4 separate regions of the Homo sapiens genome follow, and regions 1, 2 and 3 are each linked to region 4. Evidence: fine-mapped expression QTL. A gene starts in region 4. Each other region holds a variant in brackets. All regions are shown on one strand. Distances are between the middles of the regions.

The links.
Region 1: its variant is fine-mapped to the expression of ZNF697 in cerebellar hemisphere (GTEx, PIP above 0.99).
Region 2: its variant is fine-mapped to the expression of ZNF697 in whole blood (INTERVAL, PIP above 0.99). The same link has a PIP of 0.9 or more in neutrophils.
Region 3: its variant is fine-mapped to the expression of ZNF697 in whole blood (TOPMed, PIP 0.98).

What each region holds. Positions count from the first base shown.
Region 1 is chr1:119,619,072-119,624,518 of GRCh38, reverse strand. ZNF697 (zinc finger protein 697) reads left to right here. Exons shown (of 3, transcript NM_001080470.2): 3 at 403-5,142. The coding sequence ends at 1,814. Among named protein-coding and RNA genes, the nearest start is that of LINC00622, 23 kb to the right of the region's middle. The variant G/A (reference allele first, on the strand shown) is at 2,839.
Region 2 is chr1:119,567,954-119,573,400 of GRCh38, reverse strand. It overlaps the pseudogene HSD3BP4. Among named protein-coding and RNA genes, the nearest start is that of LINC00622, 29 kb to the left of the region's middle. The variant C/T (reference allele first, on the strand shown) is at 3,232.
Region 3 is chr1:119,583,269-119,588,715 of GRCh38, reverse strand. No RefSeq gene overlaps it. Among named protein-coding and RNA genes, the nearest start is that of LINC00622, 13 kb to the left of the region's middle. The variant C/T (reference allele first, on the strand shown) is at 2,675.
Region 4 is chr1:119,645,571-119,651,017 of GRCh38, reverse strand. It overlaps ZNF697 (zinc finger protein 697), which reads left to right and starts at 2,752. Exons shown (of 3, transcript NM_001080470.2): 1 at 2,752-3,327. LOC124904389 (a long non-coding RNA gene) reads right to left here and starts at 2,702. Exons shown (of 2, transcript XR_007066506.1): 1 at 2,631-2,702; 2 at 2,042-2,294. RefSeq lists enhancers at 2,675-2,744, 1,916-2,756 and silencers at 2,815-2,874, 3,172-3,335.

The sequences.
Region 1 (5,447 bases), 26 kb after region 4:
TAGAATCTTAAAAGGCATTGGTAGCTCTTGGAGTGAGTAAACCTTTTCTCCTGAGATCTTACGTAGTGTCCCACCTGGCACAGACTTGAATATCCTGAACACAGGCAGTCAGGCCTTCAGATGGCTCTGCTAGGCAGTGCCTCGGGTCCAGCTAGGGGGGCCTGGGCCCGAGGAGGCTGCCTGAAGAACTGGTGGGCAGAGGGGGCAATGAGTGCACTCTCCTTTAGGCCTTTCCCTGGAGGATCCAGTTGAGAGAGGCTAAACTCTCAGGGGGTCTTGGAGGGGCAGGGATCCAGAGTGCCTGAGGGAGGGGATCACAGTTTTATTACTGAGGTTTCCTCTGGGCTTATCTTTTGAATGCCAAGTATAGTAATCCCCCACTGCCACCTTTTTCTGTTGCAGAGGGGCAGCTGAGTGAGGAAGAAGGCGTTTCTGTCCGTGGGGAAGAGGATGACCAATCCGGTGTAGCTGACATGGCGATGTTCCCAGGACTGTCTGAGTCTGACAGCATATCCCGGAGCCTCCGGGAGGACGACGACGAGAGTGCTGGGGAGAACCGGCTGGAGGAGGAAGAGGAGCAGCCGGCCCCTCCCGTACTTCCCTGGAGGCGACATCTCTCCCTGGGGAGTCGGCACCGAGGTGACAAGCCCGCCCACCGCCGCTTCCACCGGCTCCACCACCCCATGGCCGTGGACCTCGGGGAGCTGGATAGCCTGGTGGCCAGCATCATGGACGCGCCCACCATCTGCCCCGACTGCGGGGAGAGCTTCAGTCCTGGCGCCGCCTTCCTGCAGCACCAGCGCATTCACCGCCTGGCTGAGGCCGCTGCCGCCGCCAGCCTGGAGCCCTTCGGCCTGGCGGGCGAGTGCGACGCGATGGTGGGCATGATGGGGGTGGGTGTGGCGGGGGGCTTCGGGGCCGGGCCCCCGCTGGCCCGGCCCCCGCGCGAAAAGCCCTTCCGCTGCGGGGAGTGCGGCAAGGGCTTCAGCCGCAACACCTACCTGACCAACCACCTGCGCCTGCACACGGGCGAGCGGCCCAACCTGTGCGCCGACTGCGGCAAGAGCTTCAGCTGGCGCGCCGACCTGCTCAAGCACCGGCGCCTGCACACGGGCGAGAAGCCCTACCCGTGCCCCGAGTGCGGCGAGGCCTTCAGCCTCAGCTCGCATCTGTTGAGCCACCGGCGCGCGCACGCGGCGGCCAGCGGCGCGGGGGCGGCGGCGCTGCGGCCCTTCGCCTGCGGGGAGTGCGGCAAGGGCTTCGTGCGCCGTTCGCACCTGGCCAACCACCAGCGCATCCACACGGGCGAGAAGCCGCACGGCTGTGGCGAGTGCGGCAAGCGCTTCAGCTGGCGCTCGGACTTGGTGAAGCACCAGCGCGTGCACACGGGCGAGAAGCCCTACATGTGCTCCGAGTGCGGCGAGACCTTCAGCGTCAGCTCGCACCTCTTCACGCACAAGCGCACGCACTCGGGTGAGCGGCCCTACGTGTGCCGCGAGTGCGGGAAGGGCTTCGGGCGTAACTCGCACCTGGTGAACCACCTGCGCGTGCACACCGGCGAGAAGCCCTTCCGCTGTGGCCAGTGCGAGAAGCGCTTCAGCGACTTCTCCACGCTCACGCAGCACCAGCGCACGCACACGGGCGAGAAGCCCTACACGTGCATCGAGTGCGGCAAGAGCTTTATCCAGAGCTCCCACCTGATCCGCCACCGCCGCATCCACACGGGCAACAAGCCGCACAAGTGTGCGGGCTGCGGCAAAGGCTTCCGCTATAAAACGCACCTCGCGCAGCACCAGAAGCTGCACCTGTGTTAGGGGCTGGGTCCGCGGGAGGCTGCCGTCTGGGGAGCCTGTGGGGGGTAGATATCCTGGGACTGACCCAGGGGAAGGAAGTGGGGAAGGGGCGGGAGGGACAATCTGAGAGTGACTGGGGAGCCTTTGGTGTTTGGGGTTTCCTGAAGTGGGAGGAGTGTTGAGTAAGTTGGTCTTTCCCGGTGCTATACTTGCCTCCTCTCCACGGAAGAATTGTTCAGGAGATGCGCTTGGGGTGATGACTTCCTTAAATACACGCTGTAGGGGGTGAAGAGCTTGGAGGACCAGGCACTTTGAGGAAGGGCAGTTCGTGGGCTGGGGTGGGAACAGGATGGCGGGCAATAGACTAGGGTAGGCCGCGATGGCCTGTAGAAGGTTGCGGGGAGAGGGTTTAAATGAGGGTTATGGGGCGAAATAAAACCAAGTATAAGTGATTCTATCTTGGTCCCACCAAGAGTTTGCCCGATCTCCACACATCACCTGTTGTCTCACAAAAAGTAGGGGAACCTTGTCAGTCACATAGGACAGGATATTTAATGTACTTTTCCTTTCTCTGAGCCACAGTTAGCTGCTATTTTGAGGCATCCAAGGGGAAGTGGGCTGAAAAACGCCACACTCATTTCAAGGGGCAATGTCTGGGGTTTAGAAATTCATTTATAACTGGTTCTCTGATGTGGGAAATCCTGATTCTGTCCCGGGTTCTTTGCTACTTCCTTGAAAATACTCTAGCTTCATGCTGGGTCAAGGTGGTTTACCTGGATGACCCCCCTCCCCCGCCCTCGCCCATCCCAGGTGTGTGCCACACCCAGTATTTCTTTCAGGTCTCAACTGTGGTGTTTTAAGTGCAGGGAAAAGGAACAATCACAGCTATGTGTGACTTTCCTTTTCCCACCTCACCTTGATGTAGGTGTTTCAAGTGAACTTTAGACCAACAGTTGCCCAGTGACCTGCTAAAAAGTCAACTAGCTCAGAGTTTTGCTGGCCTTTATGTGAGAAATCCAAGAAAGTGTTCACTTTTTTGGGATGC[G/A]AGACTCCTTGGTCTCATTTGCCTTCACTTTGCATTTGTTAGTGACCTCCACTAACCCCCACTTCCATGCATATTGACGAGGGATCTAGTCTAAGTAAGAATGTCTTTTGCCTGCGCGTGGAGGCACAGTAGAAATCTCAAGGCTTTACCCAGAAGAGCCCAGTCAGGGAGAGGTGTAAATGCAAAATTGCCAAATAGCACAAACAATGAATGTTTTCTGGTTGTTATATAGATGCCAAAATAGCACTTTGATATTTGCAAAGTGCTTTATGCTTTTTAATAATTGTTAGCTGTTTCTCACATCATTGTGAGTTAGATCAGTATTATGACCGCTGTCTTAGGGAAGGCCTGGGAACAGGAGTGTGCAGGCTGTCCTGAAGAGAGGCTGAGGACAGTGTGAATAATTGTAGCCTGACCTTTTGCATTCTCCAGCTCAGCTGCTAGGAAGACTTACTTGTCATGATTTATATAATAAAATTAAGGACACTGAAAATTCTTATGCTTGATGAAAAACTTAAGGCTAGCCTAGAAGGGCCAAACATGTCCTTATTGACAAAGCTGGTCTTTGTCGCCTAATTAGGGTATCCTAGCTATGTTCCATTTCTAGTAAGGGGCTGTAGTTAGATGACTCTTGTATAGATTTCAGTTACTTATGCTGAAGATCCCTGTGCTAGGTTAGCCTTTAGAAGTTAGAGTTGTGGAAAGCAGTATTGTTTTCTTCTCTAGTGATTGTTACCCTACACATTTCATGGAAGCATCTTCACAAAATATCAGACACAGTGGAAGGGGGAAAAAAAGCTACGAGATTGTTTTTACACTTTTAGCAAAGTTTCTGTGGATGCTAGTAATTTATACTTGATCAGTTGTATTCTAGTAAAGAACCTCTTTGGGGACTGTAGGAAAGCATGTTTTTGTGGTTATAAAAACACTTAAAAATCCTGATAATTCTGGGCTTGTATAATGCCTGTTGATCTTGCCCTCTTAATCAGTTTATTGTTATTCACAAATGCAAATAGGTTTTCAAACTACAGACAGTTTTGAAAGACATTAATTCTCATTTTCTTCTAGTCAGGAGTAATACAAGCAAACAAGTGTCCGTTTTGAATTCTGATTTGTAATCTGAATACTAAACATATTAGACCCACCTGAAAATAATATAGCCAATTTCTAGGTAATCTTACTGCTTTGTGGGTTTCTTTCCATGTACATCTACCTCTTCCAGCTGTTTTAAGTTTTCTCAAGTCTGTGCCTATGAAATCTCATCCAACTTTTGATTATTCATGGATTGATTATCCGCTTTTTTTTTGCTTTTTTGCTGCCATTGCTATGCCTGGTCTCGTCTGCATCAAATATACTACATATCAGCAACTTTAGAGAATGGGTTCAACAGGGAGTGGAGAGTGAAGCTAATGTAAAATAGTTTAGTGGCAGTGGGAATCTTTGGACTTCATTTACCTCTCTCATTATTTCTATTACCATGGATAAAAAAGTCAGCTGCTACGTTGATATCCCTTCTATGAGCACATTCTTAGCAGAAGAAAACAATCCAACTACCAACACCCGACTCTATTGGTGCATTTAAAATGTGATTCCATTTTTTCTTACAATTCTTCAGGGAACTTACCTGCATTAAGTGAGGTTAAATGCATTCAGGAGGTTGTTTGTTTCTTCTATCTAGTTTTAGAATAATATTTCTTCGGCAAACCCTGCTAACTGCGGTTCACCCTTGAAAACGTTAATCTGAGGACTTTTTCCACCAACTCATTAATGATGGTGGAAGCAAGTGTATTATTTGTTTCCTGGAGAATTTGATGAAGAGCAGTCTTCCTCTGCTGCCCTTTACTAAGCAAAACCTGGAGCAATTTAAATAGGCTAAATGGTTTTGATTAAATCTTGAGCTCCGAGTTGGAAGGAGAAAATGAGAAGTTAACCCCTTGAGCCATGTGGTCTCTTTACAATCAAGAGACTGTACATATGTGAAAAAATACAAATTAAGGACCTGTGTTCATAGACAATCTAAACTGTGTTTCTGAAGTTTGTGCACATTTTTCTTCACTGTAATGTTATTTTACAGCTGTTTGTTAAAATAGTGAATAATTTAATGATCCTAAAAGTAACAGGTTTCGTGTGAGTGTGCTTGTATACGTGAGATTTGCCTTATTTTCAGGTTGTTTTATTTAACGATGGTTCCTTGGACAGCATTCTGGTGTTCAGCAACCAATATGGAATATTTGTCATTAAATCCATATCAGTCTTTTACCATGTCATTCTTCTTTGCCACACATTAAATGTCACTCAGCTCTATCTATGGAAGCTATGTTCTTGTAGAACAAGGGTTGACAAACTACTAAATCTGCCCTGCATATTTTTGTACATAAAGTTGCATTAGAATACAGTCATACCCATACAGGCACATTTGCATATTATCTGTGCTACTTCACCCTGAATTTGCCGTGAGTGGGCCTCTGCCCACATTCCAATTAGAAAAACTGTACCTGGTCAACCTGGAATTCTTGAGGTTTGATTAGTTTAAGCTACAGATTTTTTTAACCTTGGAGAGCTTTTTGGATTGTTTGCCTTTTAAATGAAGAGAGCAATTAATTGGAGTG
Region 2 (5,447 bases), 78 kb after region 4:
GAGAGAACCAGTGATTAAAGAGGAGATGGAGAGAAGAAAGAGGCTAAGGATATGGAAGAATAAAGGAAGAAAGGATATGATTTAGAGAAGAGAAGGAGAAAGAAGAGAGAGACAGTTAAATCTGGGGATGTGGGATAGTAGACTTCTAATTTTGGGCTGAGTAGAAGGTATATTTTGGAGGAAGTTCACACTTGTTTTTTGTACTTGTCCAGGAACCCATGGTGTGGCTCATTGTGTGATTTGAAAGGGTGAAATGCAGGGTTATGTATGATCAGAATGGCCAACACACATATAGCCAGGAGTGTTCTAGAGACCTTCAAATAAATTGACACTGAAGCGGGTGGAGGCCTGATGCATTTTTGTTTCTCTCTGCCCTGCTCAGGCCCATTAGGAAAGGCATGCAAACCCTTTCAGATGCCCCTCAGGGATTATCCTTGGTTCTAGAGATTCCCCTGTACCAGATTGGGCAAGAAAGAGGTAACCCCAAAAAGCTGGGGCTCTCCCAAGTATCAGCATCCCATGCTCCAGTGCTCTGCTGTACCACTGATAAGACCAGTTCAGGCTGCATGATTCTAGGGAAAGATAAAGTCTTTCAAGACCAACTTCCTGGTAGCAGGCCTAGCCACTAATCATTAGTGTGATGGTGAACAAGTTTCCTTAAGGGTAAAATGGGAATAGTCACCCCCACGTGATAGGTTTCTGATAAGTATTGAGTGAGGGAATATATGTCACATGTAGGTCATGTTGTAGATGCCTGAAACATAGTAGAGCTTATTCAGTCTTCATCGCCCTTCCAGATCCTCCCACTACTCTGCCAACCCCCCTTCCCCAGCTCCATGCTACTCTCCTAGGTAAAAGATGGTGATACCTGGAAATGAAAAGAAAAGGAGGGAACTAGGTATTAACAGAAACTACACCTCCCTCCAGGTTAAGGATTAAAACATTTATTGCTCTTTACATTGGACTGCGTGAAGAAATAGGAGATTTAAAAGAAAAGAAATCCTTTCTCATTTAAGAGTAGAAATGGAGCTCTAGTAGTTAAAAATGACCTCAAGTTAGAAGAGACTACAATTGTTCGGAATCAGCCACTGAGATATGGAAAAAGCAAATCACATTGTCTTTCCTCTGGTATATGATTAGGACAAAAAGCTTCTGGTTGGGCCAGGGACTGGGCAGGTTTTGATGACATGAGGAAGACAATAAGTTGGCTATTATGTGAAAGGGAGGCAGCAGGACCTGGACTTTTGCCCTTGTCACCTGTATGAAGCCAGGAGGATGGAGCTTGACGACATCTCCTAACAATACCCACATGCACATCTCTGTCATCCTTCGATCACTGAGTCTTGGACTTCAGGGTCTCCTTGTGCCAGTCCACAAGGGAACCAACCCACTCCATGGTTTTCTGCTTGGCTTCCTCCCAGCTGTAAAGTGACTTATATGCCAGATCTTGCTGAGCCTTCTTGTAAGAGAAGGTGAACACGCTATTTGACAATGTCACTCTGTGGTGGTTGAAGGGCGGTCGACAGGTGTAAACTGGCCTCGGCAGGAAGCTCACTATTTCCAGCAGGAAGCCAATCCAGTACGTCAGGGATAAAGGCAGGCTCCAACTGGAATCAAGGCAGAGGCCGAACTCTTTGCTCAAGGTGTAACTAAGGTTATCATAGCTTTGGTGAGGCGTGTCATCTGAGATATAGTAGAACTGTCCTCGGACACTTGGGGCCTTCTTGGGCTCCCGCAGGGCCCTCAAGGCCAGAATGTGGGCCCAGGCTATGTTGCCAACATAGACTGGGTTGACTCTGGAGAACTTGCTGAAACTTGACAGGATTCCATGGTTGTTTAGGGCCTCATTTATACCGGCAGAAAGGATTGGGCTTCCTTCCCCATAGATAAACATTGGTCTTACGGCACAAGTGTACAAGGTGCCACCGTTTTTCAGAGTCAGCCCATTAGCCGCCAGCACAGCCTTCTCAGCAAGCTTTTTGCTGTGTGGGTATGGAGCGTACCATGTGTTTTCCAGAGGCTCTTCTTCATGACCGTTCTGAATGATTTCCTTGTAGGAATTGGGCCTGGCTACCTCTAGGGTACTGGTGTAGATGAAGATTGGCACTGTAGCTTGGACACAGGCCTCCAACAGAAGCTGGGTACCTACCTACGAAAAGCATTCTGTCAGTGTCAGGAAATATAACTAAGGGGCCCCAACAACGTGCATAGATATTTATTCCCAAGTGCAGTGGTTATAACAGACTCGGGGTATATTCTTATGTGACTCTGACTGAGACTGGGCCATGCTACAGCCATAGGAAAAACACCAAAATGAAAAGAAACTGACATGTGGGTTCTGGGGAGCAAGAATTTCTAGACTTTTGGGTATATGGATGTGTGTGTCTGTGTGTGTGTGTGTATATACTGTAATTTTGGCAAAGGACCTAGAATTATCACTTTATATTCTGTCAAGTAATGATGTTGAAAAATTACAATGTGACATCAATACCATTAATGGCAGATTATTGAAAAACTAACAAATCAGGAAGATATACTCTGAGAATATGGACAGTCCCAGTCCTTAGGCAGAAAAGGGCACTGGAAGAATTTATGTCACACACACACCCATACACAATTGTATATAAGCAATATACACTCTGAAATGTACTCTTAAATATACATATAATTGCTGGTATTTTTCTCATTTTGAGTGGACTGGTAAAACTTTGTCACCAGGACCATTCCTGGAGTCATTGAGCGAACAGTGGCTTGTGGGGAGATGCTGGAAACCCACACTCTTTTCCTGATTGTGCATTCCCTGGGAAAGCTGCTTCCAATTCTGGCTGTGACTCTGTTTACCTGGTTATGTAAAGTCGGGGTGATAAACCTTCCTTTAAACCCTGCCCTGGCGTTTCCTGTGGAGCCTGGTGGAGGACTGGGGAGAGGAGTGTGCCCTCTGCTGGTAACACCTGTACTGGGAGGACCTTGCCGCCTCCCCTGAGCTGTGTGGAAGCGAAGCTCATGGAGGTGTTCGGAGTGCCTTCCCTTGAAGAAGGAAGGAATTTCCTAGGCAAAGGATTATTATTTTTTCTTATTTTTTTATTCTTGGCCCTGTTTAAAGTCTCTGTGGAATTTGAGTTTCTGGAGAGACAGCCTCATGTTTTCAACAATTAATCTGGTGGCAGAGAAAATGCGGAAGTAGTTTACCTTCAAGGGGGAAATGACCAACATTGTGAAATATTTTCTAAG[C/T]CTTGGAGTGATAATGGTTAGGAAACAGATGCCTCTAACACTTCCCCTGTCATTTCACATTTCTTGTTGTTGGGAGCTGCGGAGAGTTAACAATTCAAATGAAAAACTGGTTACTCTTAACACCCTCCTTGCACTGTAGGGGTACTGAAAGAAATGAGCGAGTAGAAACTGGAAAGGTTTTTTTCTTTCTGTTTCCTTCCTTCCTCTCTTTCTTTCTTTCTTTCTTCCTTCCTTCCTTCCTTCTTTCCTTCCTTCCTTCTTTCCTTTCTTTCTCTTTCTTCTTTCTTTCTTTCTTTCTTTCTTTCTTTCTTTCTTTCTTTCTTTCTTTCTTTCTTCTCTTTTTTTTTTGGTACTGGAGACTCAAAAGCAATTAGTTGCATGAGAAAAGGCATCAGAGTAGACTGAATGTGGAGGGCCAGGCCTGTGGTTGGGTGCTATGGTGCTGAAGAGACTGGACTCTGGGAATCAGAGGGTGAGACTGCATGACGAGATTCCTTAAGGGAATGTGTCTGAATTTAAAGTAGTTTGGGAAGCTGCAATTCGGAAAGACCACCAAGCTTTTAAGGGACGAGGATTGAATGAAGGTGCACTTTGGGCACCTAGTTTGAAATGGTTCTGTAATAGCAGGCCCTTTGGTGAGCTGAAGAGATCATATTCTGCATACTGGGAAACTCTTTTTGTTAAGAAAATATTGTGAGAAAGCATGTGCTGGATAATTCTGTCCTGACAGACCTCTGAGAACCAGCTTTGCTAGTTCTCTCAAGAGAACTTCTTTGAGGTGGGCAGGAGGGCTTTGAATGTTCTTGATATGGGAGTGCTGGGAAGGGAAGAGTGTGGTCCCTTTAAATGATATGAGAGCGGGGAAGGGAAGTGCTGGGTGAAGGAGGGTGTGGTTTCTGGCTAGGGCTGCACCCTCAGGGACCTAGATGAGGACAAGCATTTTCTGCCCAAATGTTGCATTTCCCAAGACCACCCTGGCCTGCCATGCTCCCATTCTCTGCCTATAAAACCCCCCAATACCCTAGCAGGCACATGCACAAGCTGCTGGACATTGAGAGGAGCAGATTGGCAGAAGAAGACAGAAGGGGCTGGATGTCAGGAAGGGCACATCAGTGGAGGCACACATCAGCAGAGGAACACATCAGCAAAGGAATACACGGGCAGCTGGACTTTGGGAGGAACATACCCATGGGCAAAATGATGTGGAGTTTGTCTGGGGTGGTTGGAGAAGAGTTGGGTCATTGAGCAACCGACTCCAGGGGAAAACCCTCCCCTTCTGGCATCCCCCAGCTGCTGAGAGCTACCTCCACTCAAAATAACCTTGTACTCATTCTCCAAGCCCAGGTGTGATCCAATTCTTCCGGTAACCAAAGCAAGAACCCAGGATACAGAAAGCCCTCTGACCTTCCAACAAGGTAGAGGGTCTAATTTAGCTGGTTAAAACAAGCCGCCTATAGATGTCAAAACTAAAAGAGCAAGACTAAAAGAGCACCATGTAACACACACCCACTGGGGCTTCAGGAGCTGTACAATTCACCCCAGACACTGCCATGGTGTCGGAGTCCCACAGCCTGCCTGCCTGTATGCTCCCATAGAGGTTTCAGCAGTGAGGCACTGAAGAAGCAAGCCACACCCCCATTGCATGCTTGGTGAGGGGGGTGAGGGAATTTTTCCCATTTCATTATTATAAGCCTACACACAAGGTTTAAAATGATGACTATGGTGGCACCTGGAAGGTTTGATTCTGTCCCATAGAGGCAAAGAGTGGCTGAATATCAAGAGTCTGAAGTTGGAGTTTAGTTGACTTTTGACTGGAGCCACAATAGAGTGTCCACAGCCTTTGGAGTCACACAGGGGTGAGTTTAAAGTCTAATTCTCCTACTTACTTACTTACCTGGGGGGCCTTGGACAAGTTACTTGCCATCTGTAGCACTGGTTTCCTCATGTAAAAAACTGAAGATAGCAGCTTTGAACTCCCCCAGTTGGTAGTGATCAGCAAAGACACTTGGTCCAGAGCATAGCAGGTGTTCAGTGGAGAGACTTCTTTTCCCTTCCTGTCCTTCTTTGTGATCCTTAATTCCCCACCTTGCTTCATCTCCTCCCCAGGCTACTGTACCTTTCACATTGACATTCATGATGGACTCTGTGAGTGACACCGATGACATATATGATAGAGGCAGTGTGGATGATGACCGACATGTCCTGGCAGGCTCTCT
Region 3 (5,447 bases), 62 kb after region 4:
GGGAAGCCCCAGAAAGGTTTTATATAGGTGAGACATAGGATTTGAGTTTACTTTAAAAAATCTCTCAGGCTGTTATATGGAGAACACAGTTTGGTAAGCAGCAAGAGAGACATTGGAAAAGCCAATGCTGAAGCTATTCATTTAGAGAGAGACTTTTTTTTCTCTAACCTTCTTTTTTTGTTTGTTTTTATGAGGCAGGGTCTTGCTCTGTTACCCAGAGTACTGTTGTGCAGTGGTGCGATCTTCAACTTCCCAGCCCAAGAGATTCTCCTACCTCAGTCTCGGGAGTGTCTAGGACCACAGGTATGCACCACCATGCCTGGCTAGACTTTTAACAAATTTTTAATTCTGTAGAGATGGGGTCTCCCTATGTTGCCCAGGGTGGTCTTCAAATCCTAGGCTCCAGTGATCCTCCTGCTCGGCCACCCAGAGTGCTGAGACTATAGTCGTGAACCTTCATGCTCAACTATCTCTATCTTTGATGTGAGTGAGCCTCTGCCCACATTCCAATTAAAGAAACTGTACCTGATTGCCATGGAATTTTTGAGGTTTGATTAGTTTAAGCAATAGATTTTCTTAACCTTGGAGAGCTTTTCTGTTTGTCTTTTAAATGTAGAGAGCACTTACTTGAAATGAGGCCTAAGTACCTGTAATTTTGTAGAAACTCCCTGGGTGATTTTAATGGGCAAAGAGGGTGAGAACTCTTTAGGACCAATTAGGGACCCCCTTTCTTTCTTGGGGATTACAGTAAGTATAATACATAAGGCTCAAATCCTCTCCTTCACCAGAATTATGGAGGCAAAGGGCAGTGCAAGGTACATCAGGCTTTGTCTGCTCCTGGTAGGCCACCTTTCACACAACTGCTCCAAATAGTGAAGACAATATCATAAGTAAGAGCCAGGAAAAGTGCCTGTCTTGGCTGTCCATCAGATGACAATGGAATAGGTGTGGAAGGCTGCTGCTGGCCTTCACCGTCTTCACCACTCAGAGTCAGCCTTCTTCTGCTTCTCTCAGATCTTTATTCCCCCAACTCAGCTCTCTTAACAAAGCAAAACCCCAGGCATGACTTGTTTTCTCAGCTGCCCTTGGCAATCACATAATTTCCATCCTCTCTGCCCCTGGTGGGAGGGGAGGAGCATACTTGGCCAGTCTCCAGCATGAATTGTCTAGTCTTTGCTCCTCGGTCTCATTGTCACAGCCACAAGTGCCCTGCAGTTTTCTGCTGCCAGACTGTGGTTTCAAGGTCATGTTCACTAACCCAAAGCACATTCCAATGGGTTTCAATTTCCAGCTGCTGCCATGAGATCCAGGCCATTTTCTCAGTGCTCTCTGCATCCAGTGGGTGCCCTACCTCAATCCGGCAGCCGGGATTGCTTAGCTTTGGAAGCCAGTGAGGTGGGTGGCAAGTTGTTCCATATACCATGTTTCCCTCTGTTTAAGAAGTTTGAAAAAGGTATCAGTGTTTGTGCGGTGTTCAAGCTGGCATTCCAGATGTGTTGAAGATGTTCAACACAAGTGAAAGAATTGACAGGCCCCTGTTTCTAGAGACTAGGGAATCACTGGAAGCAGTTCCATGCATTCTTTTTATTCACTGAAGACACTCCACTGAGATGCTTTTCTGAAAGCATCAAGGGCTGAAGTAGGGAGTGGTTCTGCCTGGGTGTTCTGATACCATCTGTGTATGACTGGCCTTCCCCAGACCCCAAGGCTGTGACTCATTAAGAGCAGAGACCCTGAGAAGTTCACCCCTCAGCTGAGTGGCATGTTCCAGGCATAGTGCTCAATGCTGGGGAGACAGATATGAGAGAGGTAGAGATGCTTACACATTCCAACACCATTTAAGGGCGAAGGTGAAGGCTGATTTTGTTTCCTGCCTGTCCAACCTGCTTGGGGTGAATTATTTTGCCAACTGTATGTATGACTTTAAGGATTTGGCCCCTGGGGCTGCAAGGGATGGGAGGTGGACAGGGGGGAACTTCATGTCAAGGCTTCACATGTTATGCTAGGGCAAGACGGTACATTCAACAAAGGCTCAGAGTTAAGCAGATTCTCTGCCAAGGACTTTGCAACTATAAGTCAGAGTTTCCACCACTGCTGCAAATCAGGCAATGTCGACTGTACCTGGCTTTGTTGGGTGAGGGAAGGGACAGTGTGTGACCTTGGAAAAGCTAATTCACTTTGTCAAGGGGCTGGAAAAGTATCTGGCTAGACATTTCTCTTGTTAGGGGTAGCATTAGTGAATGTCTGAAATGAGGGTCACCTCAAGGTTTCACCTGAAGCAGCTCTACTGCTTTCTGTGTTGAAGTTAATAGAGTAGGTAGAAATCACAGACATGACTTCACAGCCTGAGATTCACTGGACTGATACAGCCACTGTTCAATGCTGCTGCAGCCTAGACCAAGCCCTATAGGTATTCTTGATCTTGCTCTCATCTGTGCAGTGGAAAGATGCAGGTATGAGGTGTGGGAAAATCAAATCAAACAAAATGACAAACATGAAGGCTCTTGTAAGATTCACGGGCTTGTGTGAATGTTAGGAAGCAAGGTGGTTACAAGGTGGTCGTGCTCAGTGCTGCAGAGAAGGGGCTGCTGAGGGGCATCCTAAAGTCTTGTATCATAGCTCCTGGGATCCCAGAAGGAGGAGAGAGGCAGTTGCAGTGCATATGGACTCTGTC[C/T]TCTGGGATTTCCAGCTCCTAGGGCAGGGTGAAGAGGAAGTGAGAAGGCATGGCCTCCCTTTCCTGAGAACAGGAAGAAAGAAGGAACTAGTTCTGCTCCTCCTTTGAGGGTGTGCTGTGTGTGGAGTGAGCAGGGCAGAGCTTTGGCATTAACTGGCAGTGGACTTGAGCAAGGCATGACTTTTCTGGGTTTCTGATTCCTTTTCAGTAGGCACTGACTCTATTGGTCCTGCCCATTTTAATTTCTAGTGATTGTCTAAGAGTTTTAAAACCTTCTTGGGAAACATCTATAGCTTAATGCCAAAACAAAAGGCTGTATTTAAGTCAGCATTAAGTTCTGCAGTTCAGTGGTCATCAGATATCAGGGAAGGAGGGAATCGGTTCCTACTTGGCCCACTTCTTGATCCTTTACAACCCTATGAGAGGTATGACGCCCCTTTTCCAGTGAGGTGCCATGTGCCACTAGAGCCACGAATGACTGGGAAACCACTTTCTCAAATAGCTTTGGCTTCACACAAACAAATAAGCACAAGGAGGCTTATGTTATTACGAAGTTTAGTGGCAGAAGTGTGCAGGTGCCAGAGGATGCAAATCATCTTACACTTTTGCAGCCCAATGTCACTGGCAAAAGACCTTAGAAATGAGCCATAACCTTCATTTTGTAGGAAAGAAAACAGACCCAGGAAGGTGAAGAGATTTGCTTAACTTCGATGACAAAATTGAAATCAGAACCCAGGATTTTCACTCTTCACTCTTATTTGCAAAAATATTCTTCTTCTAAAACAAAAGAATACTCGCTTGTTTTTTGCCCTCCTTGACCCCTTTCCTTAGTCCCTCTCACCCCCAACTACTTTCATTTCTTTACCATGAAGCACCTGCCTGTCTCCATTTATGCAACATCCACGTCCACAAGCTGATGTTCAGATGAGAGGTTGGGTTATATAGGCAAGATAGATGGTTTAGACAGCAGACTTCTCATTAAACCTACCCTCTGCCCTGTTTCCAAATGTCTCTCATCCCAGTTTTTTTTCCCTTAATAAATATTTTACCTCAAAGGTAGCAAATCATTGGTCACCATTACAGACAGTTGTCTAAGTGAACGTTGGAAAGGTCATCTCACTTCCCAGGCCTCAGTTTTCTCATCAGTAAAATGAAAGCAGGAAAGGAACCCACAGTTAAAAGCTGGAGTAATGGTCTCTAGATCCCTCTTTAACTTCAATTTAATAAAAATTTTAGAGATGAAGTCTTGTCTGATGTTGAATTCCTGGATTCAAGTGATCTTTCCCCTCAGCCTCCCAGTAGCTGGGAATACAGGTGTGCCCTACCATGCCTGATGAAACTTTCTTTGCTCTAAAATCTGAACTCCACAAAGACATTGATCTGTCCTGTAGGAGTCAGGAAGCCTTTTCTATTTAACCATGCTAGGTCAGCAATAGGTGTTTTGCCTGCTGCTGAAAGAAGTTCTCTCAGTCAGGACTGCCTGTGTATTTTACAGGGATCAGTGCAAAATGAAATGTGGGGTCCCATGGCAGCCCCTTAAGCCAAGCACAGGCCCTGGGTGACCTCACCGGCCTTGTGCCCAGAGAGCTGCTCTGCTCAGAGCTACACCAGGGATTTGACAGACTCCAGCTAGTGCAGGAGGGAGTTAGTGCCAGGCTCATGAGAAGGGTATTCCTACTTTAGTGGCCAGCGTTCATGCTAAGATGACAATAGGCCCGGAACCCATATCACGCCCACCTCTCTGTCGCCAGTACCTGTTTTGGAAGAAGGGCTGACTGCATCAGTGCTGGTTCTTCCATTTCTTGAGGAAAGATTGCGCTCTTCAATAAGGAACTTCAGGTTTCCAGAACAGATTACTGACTGTTTTGGAGTCTGCAACTGACCTCAGTGCTCCCTGCCTTTGGGGACAGAGTGGCTAAGCCACTTTCTTTTCATCCAGCCTTCCCTCTCCACTTCCTCATAATGAACCTCTTTCATGCCTCAGATCACCGACTCCATTCCCTGCTCATTACCATTGGGTGGGATCTTGGGCCAAGATAAAGAAAAAGAACGCCCCTCAATTTTCCACCAGAGTCCCCTGATGTCTTAAGAAGCACATGTAGACAGAGAGGTTGCGTGGTCCTCACTTGAGTCAACTAAGAGTGGGAGATTCTCTTCTGAATTCATTTTTCAAAAGCAGTTTTTCCTTTTTTTTGTAGTATAAAAATGCTCTGGGCCTTGCACCATTTCAGGTTTTGGATCCAATTCCCAGTCCCTTTATAACCTTGGCAGCTGGGCTTCGCCTTCAACAGCCTTTCCCTTTCCCTGCTCATGGGCCTCTCACAACCCCACTCTCTCTTTCTATCACACAAATGAGTTCATTCTCAGCACCATACCCACTATGTGGCTTATCTCTTTTCCAGCTCTCATCATGATGATCGAGCTTCTTCAGGTTCATTGACACCCTGAAAATTTGTCTTTGAATTCTCTCTTGCTTTGTCATTGAAAGCATTGTGCTCCCTGACTCCCCATCCCCTCCTCTCTCCGTCCTAACATTTGAGTTTGTTGGTGTTTCATCTTTCTATCCGTGCATCCATCTATCTCTCCATCAGCCCATGTGTCTATTTTGTGTCAGTCACTGGGGACAGAGAGATGACATGGTGAGTTACTGTCCTCAGGACATGGCAGTGTAGGGGTGGGGGACAGGATATATAAATAAAAAATTAATGGCAGTGCAACTAGATATGCACAAAGCACAGAGGCTATAAAAGAGATGCTTTGGATGGTGAATAAG
Region 4 (5,447 bases):
TCCTTTGATCCGACTTCCTTCTCAGCTACCACCCTGTTCAGAACCAAATTTCACATACTACATGTCTTCTTTACCGTCTGTATTTCCTCCCTCCCAAGCCTTCCTCTGGCCACTCCTGTCCACTCCTGCCACTCACTGGAACAGAAGGCTTATGGAAAGAGCCCCACTTTTACAGAACACGAACCCCAGTATAAGGCAGCATTATAGCCCTTAAACACTGTGAAGTAATTTTGTGACATCTGTCTTTTCAACTGGAGTGTGGGCTTCTTGGGGGTAAGACATAGCTGGTAGTTACTCAGTAAAATATCTTACTGTTGAATGTTACATGTCTACTCCAGACATGGAGACTAGCATGAATAAATGTTAAACAAAACTTTGTTGAAGTAACAAAATAACTGAGATTGGAAACAAAAGGATGGGACAGGTTTGGAATGGCGTGAAATAATGAGTGAAAGTTCAATTATTCTGAGCTCAAGTTAGAAGTGTAGGAGAAGGAGGAGAGTGTGTTGTATTAAAAGCAAGGCAAAAAATAGTTTCAATGGGCAATGTTATATGTTAAATGCTACAAGCAAGTATATCATGTTTTTCAGACTGAACACTATTAGAGGCTACTTGATTTGCAAAACAATAATCAATTCTTTGGGGTGGAGATGGGGAGATTAGTTTCACTGGAATGTTACCAGGTTGAGAATATGAAGGAGCAGTAATTTGTAGGGTCCAGAAAATGCAAGGATCACAGCACAATTAATTTAGGTGGACAGTCAACAGAGTGGGCATACAGCAGGACCTTTAGGGTGGGCATACAACAGGAACTTTTGGGAGGTGAACAGTCCTATCTGCATGCTTCTCATCAATTCTACATTTTAATCCAGGCCATCTTATCCGTGAGGTTAAGGATCTCTAGAGAAAGAGAACTCTAGCATAAACTTTACTTAAATGTAAGCTAAACCCTTCACCCAAATGTTTTAATCATATGGATTTAAAATGTGAAATGACAAGTGGAAGTGACACGTAATTATGACCTTATTTTTTGAAACAGAGTCTCAATCTGTCACCCAGGCTGGAGTGCAATCACGGTTCACTGCAGCCTCAAACTCCCAGTCTCAAACGACCCTTCCACTTAAACGACCGAGTAGCTGGGACTACAGGTACGCGCCACCACACCCGCTATTTATTTTATTTTACTTTTCGTAGAAACAGGGTCTCACTGTGTTGCCCAGGCTGGTCTTGAACTCCTGGGCTCAAGTGACCCTCCCACTTCGGCCTCCCAAAGTGCTGTGATTACAGGCATGAGCCACCAAGCCCAGAGACTTTTCTTTCTTTCTTTCTTTTTTTTTTTTGAGACGGAGTCTCACTTTGTTGCCCAGGCTGGAGTGCACTGACATGATCTCAGCTCACTGCAAGGTCTGCCTCCCAGGTTCATTCCAGTCTCCTGCCTCAGCCTCCCGAGTAGCTGGGACTACAGGTGCCCGCCACCACGCCCGGCTAATTTTTGGTGTTTTTTTTTTTAGTAGAGACGGGGTTTCACCGTATTAGCCAGGATGGTCTCCATCTCCTGACCTCGTAGTACGCCCGCCTCGGCCTCCCAAAGTGCTGGGATTACAGGCGTGAGCCACCGCGCCCGGCCTCCCAGAGACTTTTCTATCTGATTACTTTTCAAACACATTCTAGAGCATCCTAGAACTTGTCCTTTCCTAGTTCAGTTTATTACTTTCTGCTCATGCTCCAGGAGAGAATATAGCTTTTAGTCATTTAGTCTCTATGTGGTCCTTCCTTGATTTTCTAAGGGTCCTGAGTCTGTGGTCCCAGAAATAGACAAAAACATGTGCAGGGCATCATAGACTCTTGCTAGGCTGGAAGTAGAGTTCCTCTCTTGTAGCCAATGTCCTCTTCTCCTCACCCTTCCACTCCCGAAATACACACACTCAATATACAGTGGCCAGCACATCTGTTTTATGGGACCAAGAAGCTGAATCCTAAAGGTTAATGAAGGAAAGATACGCAGAAAGTCCAGCACTTTCCTAATTCAGCAGCACACAGGTTTTCACGTCTAATATTTAATTTACGTAATTTATTTTCAATCTCAATTTAATTGCTTTTCTTGAAAAGATGTTTGGGACAAGGTCAACAATGAGGGAGGAATGTCACCGGGTCGGGATCTGGAAACAATCAGCTCTGTATGGTTTTAAAGATGAAGCGCCAAGATCTTAAGGAACCTGAATTCCTGGTGAGCAATCAAGTTCTTTAATCGGCCCCCAGCAGGATGTCAACGGCGTAAAAGACAAAAAGAAAATCTATTTTAAAAGATAGATTTTGTGTTTTTAGATTAATTTTTAAAAAGCGAACCCACCACAAACTTCCCAGTTTTTAAAGAAAAGGCCTCTCCCACCGCAGAGCCCTCCCGAACCATGGGACAGCTCAGCGGCAGCGTCCCACCGGCTGCCCGCAACCGGTGCCGCGAGCTCGGAGTGCAGCGCTGGGATCTCGCGTGCTCCGGGACAGCGGGCTCCTTGAGCGCCGCGGGGCGGGGCGTGGGGCAAGACCCGCCGGCCGCTCCCTTCCCCACAGCGCTTAGAGAAGCAGCGAGCGCCTTTCCTCCTGTCCCGGAGTCCTAGCCTGGCCCGAGCTACCTCCAGGGCGCCCGCTGCTGCGGTGGCAGGAAGTCCCCGGGAACTACAAATCGAGGCATGCTGGGAACATTCTCCCGCTCCTCCCAGGAAATGTCCTTTGTCCAGCCCTACAGGAAGCCCCAGTGAGGAGTCAGCCGGGCAGCCAGCCAGCGAGCCAGCCAGCCAGCCAGCCAGCCAGCCAGCCAACCAGCCAGCCAGCGGGCCACCCAGCGGCCGCTGCAGCCGCCGCCGCCGCACAAGGGCAGACGCGCTGCGGTGCGGGGCTCGGGCCGGGGCGCTCGGTGCCCTAGCTCCTCGCCGCGCCAGCCGCCTCGCAGGTAGGAGCGTGGCTGTGGCTGGGCTCAACCGCCTCCCGGGGATGGGGCTGATCGGGACCAGACCCGACCGCTGCGGGGATGGGGTGTGTGTTCGAGTGCGGTGGCGGAACGGCTGGGCGAAGTTGTGCCTCGTAAAGTGGACCGTTGTCCGCTCCCCTGGGGCGCAGGGCCCCGGGCTTATGGGGTGCTCTCGCGCCCCCAAAGCCAGGACTGAGCTCCCTCAGGGGTATGTGGCGAGGGGCGGGGAGGAGGAGGCTGAGACTTGAGGGAGGAGACAGCGATGCAAGAGGGAATAGGACCGTCCCGCCGACCACCGAAGGGGGCATCAGAGACCCTCGGAGAAACCAAGCCCAGGGAGGAGCTTGGAAGGCAAGGAGAAGGTGAAGGGCTTTGTGTGCAGCTGTGGACCTTGACGGACTGCGCTCCCCTTGCCTTGTCTGTTCGTGCCTCCAGCCCCACTGGGGCTAAGGGAGGGTGGGGGGCTCCGAGAAGGGCAGGAGAGAGGCGGCAGGTCATCTTGGGTCCTAGTGAATGAAATGTGTGCCTCCCTTTTCCTCTCTTCTCCATTCTAGCCCACTCAAATGAGCGGCTTTGGGGCTGCCATCAGACCGGGCAAATGACACAATAAGGACGGGTGGGTGGAGAGATGGGCAGCAGCTCGCAGCCCAAGAGGGGTGGCCGTCTAGCCCCGGGAGGCATTCCAACCACACGTGTCCATGTAGGTAGGTGGTGGGGTGGTGGGCAAAGCTGGAACCTGCACCTCGCGGGGATGCCGAGGCTCAGGATTGTGCATGGAGGCACGGGTGAGGCGCGTGTTGGGAGGAGTGGGTGAGTAAAAGGTTGAGGGGGAGCAGCGACACAGAGGCGCTGAGTGTACCTTATGGCCAATGTACATTATGGCCATGCATCGGGAACTGACTACCACTTCCTCTGGGACTTTCCACGATTTTCCTTTTTCCTAACCGCCTCCCCCAACCGCCCCCGCCCTGCCTCCCCCACAGGAGTGAATCACCCACCCCTTACTACATGAACCCTGGGCTGAATTGAAGTTGGTGATGTATCCCTGTCCTTGTAGTGGGCATGTTTGTCCTTAACCTGTAGGATGACACCAATACTCCGCATCCCCTACTGCGTTACCCTCCTCCCTCAAGACTGAGCGTCTGGTAAATGCGGTTGGATAATGGCTAGCGAGTTAAATGTCTTTGAGTAGCTGTGGTGGATGAGTGGGCAACTTTGAATACAGTCCAAGTGTGACTGTTGTAACTGAACTCAGCATGCCTAAGGGGCCACACTCACTATCTCTCCTTTCTCCCCTCACCTGATTTTTTGTTGATGCCCCCAACTGTTTACCTTCTTCTCTCAACAAGCCAACATGTGGATATTATTTAATGTGGAATACGTTTGAGGAACCAAATGAACCTTTAAGAATGCCACTTATATGGCCAGGCAGGAGTATGCAAGGCTCATGGTCGAAAGAATGATGCTGTAGGACATGGAGAGAGCCCTGAGCCTGATATAAATGGCTTTCGAGGTGAAACAAAACATTTCTTCCTTAGCTTCTTTGGGAGAGATGAGGCATTTGAACTGAGATAAAGAATGGAATCGAGAAAAAAAACCGAGTTGTTTAGGATGAGGCCATGAGGATAATGAAGTGAAGGGAAGAGGCTCTGTGAATTTAGATGATTTCTAGTTAGAACATATTGGCCGTGTGTGTGTGTGTGTGTGTGTGTGTGTGTGTGTGTGTGTGTTGGAAGTGGGGGTTGTTGTTAAGGGAAAGTTGATGTCAAAAGTTCAGCCATGCCCAACAGAGAATAAGATGGCATCCTATTGAACAAGATCATAAATATGAAGTCAGGCTGCCCTTTACATTACACAAAGGAACACATAGATGGCTTTTCAGAACTACTGGGATAGAGGGGTAAATGGATGCTAGTCAGACAGAAGAACCGGCTGGATTGATGCGGCTGGATTGAAGTGGTAAATAGTGACCTCACATCAGCAGCATGACTAAGGCTCATGGAGTTGCATCACATTTCCTCTCCCTCCCCCACCAAAACTCTTTGAATTTCCTCAGAATCTACATTTTTTGCCTAATTACTAGTGTCCTGTGAAGGGAAGGAGAAAGGGTAAAGGTTGGTTGTAAGGATGATAAACTAAGGCAAGAAGGAGCTTGTCTGCTTATGTAGAAAGAAAAAAATAGCTACAGTGTCAGTAAGAGGTCTGGAGCTTGAACCTATGTCAGTACCATATGGGCTTTTCTTTGTATCTAAGATTCTACTTCTTTTTTCTTTTCTTTCACCTGCCCCTTAACAGGTTTCTCAGTACCACACACTATGTAGAGTTAATATAATCAACAAAAGTAACTCCTTACTTTGGGATTTAAAATTCTTCACAATTCAGTGCCTACCTACCCCTCTCCTTTACTGGACCTGTGCCACCCCAATTTACCTACCCATCCTTCGAGCAAATAGCTCCCCAGTCCTTGAAGATGCAACAGACA